Regions from separate parts of the Homo sapiens genome. Here region 1 is linked to region 2. The links come from fine-mapping of genetic effects on gene expression. A gene starts in region 2. The other region holds a variant in brackets. All regions are shown on one strand. Distances are between the middles of the regions.

Region 1 (3,007 bases), 89 kb before region 2:
ATAGGACTGTTGCTCATGTTGAAGACCATTTTAAACTCTCAGGTTCTAGGCTACACATGGCTCTTGCCCCAGCTCCTTATTTAATCCTTGCATGCTAGGGAAGGGGTCTACCTCATTAGCACAAAAGGAGGCATTGAGGAGGATGGGAAGTGTGGTCTGTGAGTCTTTATCCATTTCTTGAGCACTTGTACTACACTGGGCTTGGGGATTGTAGTGAAAAATAACTTTTCTTGGCCTATCATAAACAACACTGTAATGAACAACTATTATTTTCCAAAGAACCATTGCAACCAGAGAGTGAAACCACATTTGGGGTGCAGAGAATCTGTTCCTGGGTCACCTATGAGGCCATACAGCCCTGTAGCGCCCCTAGGTGCCTAGCAGGGGGACGGAATCTGTACAATCCCTGAGGTGCTAAAGTGCAGAATGAAGCTTCCCTGTTTAAGTGGGAATACAGTAAGCACATCACAAGCATAGCTCAGACATGGGCAAGACTTACCACTTATGTCTTCCTCCATATTCTTCCCTTTGATCCTCACAACACCCTTGTGAAGCAGGGAGTATAGACTTAAGTTCATTCTACAGATAAGGAAACTAAGGCTCAGGGCAGGAGACTTGCCCAAGGTCGCACAACTAAGTAATGGGGAGAAACTAGACTCCAGTGACACCACTCCATGCCTCTAATCAACATTATCACCTGATGAACTGCACATTACTGTCAGCAAAGAATGCATTCCTTCCTTTACAAGGGGCTTTGTCAACATGGGATGTAGGACCCAGGTTTTTTATTTTTTATTTTTTTTAAGAGACAGGGTCGGCTGGGCGCAGTGGCTCACACCTGTAATCCAAGCACTTTGGGAGGCCGAGGCAAGTGAATCACCTGAGATCGGGAGTTCGAGGCCTGCCTGGCCAACATGGTGAAACCCCGTCTCTACTAAAAATACAAAACTTAGCTGGATGTGGTGTCCCGTGCCTGTAATCCTAGCTACTCAGGAGGCTGAGGCAGGAGAATTGCTTGAACCCAGGAGGAGGAGGTTGTGGTGGGCCAAGATTGAGCCTCTGCACTCCAGCCTGGGCGACAGAGCAAAAATCCGTCTGAAAACAACAACAACAACAACAAAAACAGGGTCTTGCTCTACCCATGCTGGAATGCAGAGGCATGATCATAGCTCACTGCAGCCTCAACCTCCTGGGCTCAAGCCATCCTCCCGCCTCAGCCTCCTGAGTAGGTGGAACTATAGGTGTGCTACCTCCACACCAGCTAATTTTTAAATTTTTGTGCTGGGCAAGGTGGCTTACGCCTATAATCCCAGCACTTTAGGAGGCAGAGGCGAGCAGATCACTTGAGGTCAGGAGTTCAAGACCAGCCTGACCAACATGGAGAAACCCCATCTCTACTAAAAATACAAAATTAGCCAAGCGTGATCTTGCATGCCTGTAATGCCAGCTACTCGGGAGGCTGAGGCAGGAGAATCACTTGAACCTGGGAGGCAGAGGTTGCAGTGAGCCAAGATCGTGCCATTGCATTCCAGCCTGGGCAACAAGAGGGAAACTCTGTCTCAAAAAAAAAAAAAGAAAGAAAGAAAGAAAAAATTTTTTGTAGAGATGGGGTCTCGCAATGTTGCCCAGGCTGGTCTCAAACTCCTGGCCTCACGTGATCCCC[C/T]GGACCCGGACACTTTGATTGGGAGTGGAGGAAAGAGCCCAAAAGGTCTGGAGCCTGTGGCCTGAACCTCAAGGCCACTCCTGGCTGTGTGTGTGTTTTCTTTGGTGGGGAGGTGGGGTGGAGAAGGGAGGGAGGAAATGAAAAGAGAGCTCTTCAGAGAGGAGCAATACAGTCATAAATAGGTATCACTGTCAGGGAGCAGCTCTTATTCATCTTTGCATCCCCAGCGCCTTGCACATAGTAGATGCTCCATGCAGGCTCCTAAACTGAAGACATAACCCCCAGCCCCTGGGATGATCTCTCCCGTGCTCAGTCCTGCATGGAGACCTGTGTGTATTCTCTTCTTGGCTCCCCTCACACTCATCCTAACTTCTCTTGCCCCATCTTTCTCCACACTCTCAATCTCCAATGTCTGCCCCTTCTCACTCCCCTCCCCTGCCAATCACTGAAACGTCAATTAATTGAGACTCATGTCCCTTAGAAACAAACTCAGGTCTATAACTGAGGGCTCTAGCTAAGCAATTCTTTGATCTCAAGGACTCTTTCTAGCTGGGGCTCTAGACCGTATTTAAGTATTAGGTTTCTTTTGAAAATCTAAGCAAAGGTAGAGATCCCAGGAAAATACCCACCCAGCAAAGATGTGCCTTCGGTGTCAGGAGTTCACGTCTGGACCTTCTGAGAGCTGTGGTTGGGAGAGGCTGTCCTGGTGGACAGTGCAGTCCATACCCCTGTGAGGCAGCGGGTTTCTGCAACCTTCCCTCTGCGTGGGAGACTACTCGGGATTTGTCTCCCACACAGCCAAAGGCTTGTCCAAAACTAACAGGTCCACCATCCCTTATTCTCAATTTCAAAATCCCTGAACTTCTGAAAACCATATGATAAAACAAGTTTTATCATAACACATTTGACTGCAGAACTTAACCTGACATGAACTTATTTGGCAACAAAATGGCCTCCAACTGACGCAAGGCTATTTACAGCCTTTATTTACACCATTTAGTGTGTGAATATTCATGGACTTTGCTTAAAAATATTTATGTGTTTACCAGGTGCTGCCCCAGATCCTGCGGTGGGTATTTCATAATATACAGTGTGCGCACCATGGCTTTTTTCTAAACGGTGAAAAAATCTGAATTCGGAAACCTATCTGGCCCCAAGGGTTTCAGGTAAAGGACTATGAATCTGTAGCTATAAAAATTTCTCCTAAAAAAGTTCACAGGCTGGCTGGGTGCGTTGGCTCACGCCTGTGATCCCTGCACTTTGAGGGGCCGAGGCAGAAGGATCGCTCGAGCCCAGGATTTCAAGATTGGCCTGGGTAACATAGTGAGACCCTGTCTCTACAAA
Region 2 (2,500 bases):
TATATAGTATTTTAATTTACTCATTTCACACGTCGTTATCAACTCTACATGAAGTTTAAAAGGACAAAGGATGCAAGTGGAATTGGTCAGTGTTCCGGGTTATTTCCAAGGGAGGCAGAGGGTGGGGGGTTTCCTTTGAGACAAGACTTGGGGTTGGCCAATAATTGCTGGTATTGCCTGCCTGGTAATAACAGGCTGATGAAAAGGTGACTACAACGTGAAAACTGGTTAAATCAAGCGCACCCTCCCACCCTCGTTTTAGATGAGGAATTTTCCGCCCTCACAGAAGGGGCTGAGGCAGCATCTGGCATCACAACACTAACATTTGCTTCGTGATTTCCTCTTTACCCGGCCCTTTGACACACATCCCTTCCCAGAAATCAGGATTCGCTGGTGCTTTTGCATTTCTAAAATGGGAATCCCGTGGCTGAGCTTTTAGCCGGCCGGAACGACTGAGGGCTGCATCCCTTTCCCGCAGGAGCGGGGCTCCCGCCTCCAGTTCTGTTCCAGGCCTGACTCCTCCACTCCCTCCGTGACTCATGTCCTGCGGATCCTTCGCCCCCGACGCGCCCCCCAACACACAAACCCCCAGAATCCGCCCCCAGCCTACAGCGCGACGTCAGCCCGCCCCAGCCGACTTGGAGGTCTCGGGTCTGAGTCACACAGAAAGACCACCCTCGTCGGCATCCCCACACACAGTCCGACACCCGGCGCGCCGGCCTCCCCGCCTGACACACTAACGCCCGTCGTCTCCGCGCAACTTGTTATGCTCCGGCTCGAGCCCTTGACCCAAAACCCTCAGCGAAACGGAGAGCCGCAGAGCCGGCCTCGGGCGGCCTTTGATGGCTTTGTTATTGTTTGGGTTTGAATCGATACGCCCCTCCCCATCCTTCCTCCCTCGCGGCCCTACACCCAGCTCCCGCCTCCCCTCACGCCCCGCGCCCCTCCCCCTCCATTTTGGCGCCTTTTCCTTCCCGCCACGTCGTGGCGGCGTAGAGACCATTCTGACCGCGAGAGCTGGGCGGGGCGGGGGCGGGGCGCGCCGAGTTATGCAGATCAATCGGCCTCTGGTTGGCTGGAGTAGCGCTGGCAGGGGCGGGGCCGGGGCGCGGCCACAGAGCGCGCGGGGCGGGGGCCGAGGGGAGTCGCCCAGTCCCGCCGCTTCCCCACCCCCTCTCCTCCCTCGGCCGGCCCGGCAGCCCTGCTCCCCGCCTTGGCCTCCCGGAGAGGCCCCGCCCCGTCCCCGCCCGCCGCGCCCTCCCCGCGCGCCCTCCCCGCCGGCGCGCTCCTCCCCTTTACTCCTGGCTGCGGGGCGAGCCGGGCGTCTGCTGCAGCGGCCGCGGTGGCTGAGGAGGCCCGAGAGGAGTCGGTGGCAGCGGCGGCGGCGGGACCGGCAGCAGCAGCAGCAGCAGCAGCAGCAGCAACCACTAGCCTCCTGCCCCGCGGCGCTGCCGCACGAGCCCCACGAGCCGCTCACCCCGCCGTTCTCAGCGCTGCCCGACCCCGCTGGCGCGCCCTCCCGCCGCCAGTCCCGGCAGCGCCCTCAGTTGTCCTCCGACTCGCCCTCGGCCTTCCGCGCCAGCCGCAGCCACAGCCGCAACGCCACCCGCAGCCACAGCCACAGCCACAGCCCCAGGCATAGCCTTCGGCACAGCCCCGGCTCCGGCTCCTGCGGCAGCTCCTCTGGGCACCGTCCCTGCGCCGACATCCTGGAGGTTGGGATGCTCTTGTCCAAAATCAACTCGCTTGCCCACCTGCGCGCCGCGCCCTGCAACGACCTGCACGCCACCAAGCTGGCGCCCGGTGAGAGCACCCCCCGCCTCCGGCCCGGGGATGCGGGGCGGCGGCGGGATCTCCTGGGTGGGGAGCTGGCGGCTCGCGGGCCGGCACTGAGTCCCCGTGCTTCCCCCTTTCCTAGGCAAGGAGAAGGAGCCCCTGGAGTCGCAGTACCAGGTGGGCCCGCTACTGGGCAGCGGCGGCTTCGGCTCGGTCTACTCAGGCATCCGCGTCTCCGACAACTTGCCGGTGAGTGGGCGCCCCGCGGTGGGGAGGGCGCGCCGGGCGGGGGGCGCACGGGCGTGCTTTAGCCCGGACGAGGGAACCTGACGGAGACCCTGGGCTTCCAGGTGGCCATCAAACACGTGGAGAAGGACCGGATTTCCGACTGGGGAGAGCTGGTGAGTGCCCTGCAGGAGCGACCCCCAGGATGAGTGGGTGGGGTGAGGGGCGCCCCCGACTCCCGCCCTAACGCGGCCCCCTCGCCCCTGCAGCCTAATGGCACTCGAGTGCCCATGGAAGTGGTCCTGCTGAAGAAGGTGAGCTCGGGTTTCTCCGGCGTCATTAGGCTCCTGGACTGGTTCGAGAGGCCCGACAGTTTCGTCCTGATCCTGGAGAGGCCCGAGCCGGTGCAAGATCTCTTCGACTTCATCACGGAAAGGGGAGCCCTGCAAGAGGAGCTGGCCCGCAGCTTCTTCTGGCAGGTGCTGGAGGCCGTGCGGCA

Alleles and levels. Positions count from the first base shown, and alleles are read on the strand shown. Sizes are in standard deviations (SD) of each study's normalised expression.
As copies of C replace T in region 1, the expression in neutrophils of the gene that starts at base 1,298 in region 2 goes down (large effect, 0.78 SD a copy in BLUEPRINT).

What was found.
Region 1: its variant is fine-mapped to the expression of PIM1 in neutrophils (BLUEPRINT, PIP 0.95).

What each region holds. Positions count from the first base shown.
Region 1 is chr6:37,079,536-37,082,542 of GRCh38, forward strand. No RefSeq gene overlaps it. Among named protein-coding and RNA genes, the nearest start is that of FGD2, 75 kb to the left of the region's middle. The variant C/T (reference allele first, on the strand shown) is at 1,664.
Region 2 is chr6:37,168,855-37,171,354 of GRCh38, forward strand. PIM1 (Pim-1 proto-oncogene, serine/threonine kinase) reads left to right here and starts at 1,298. Exons shown (of 6, transcript NM_002648.4): 1 at 1,298-1,803; 2 at 1,919-2,025; 3 at 2,127-2,177; 4 at 2,271-2,500. The coding sequence starts at 1,722. RefSeq lists an enhancer at 543-1,141 and silencers at 767-1,546, 1,807-2,126.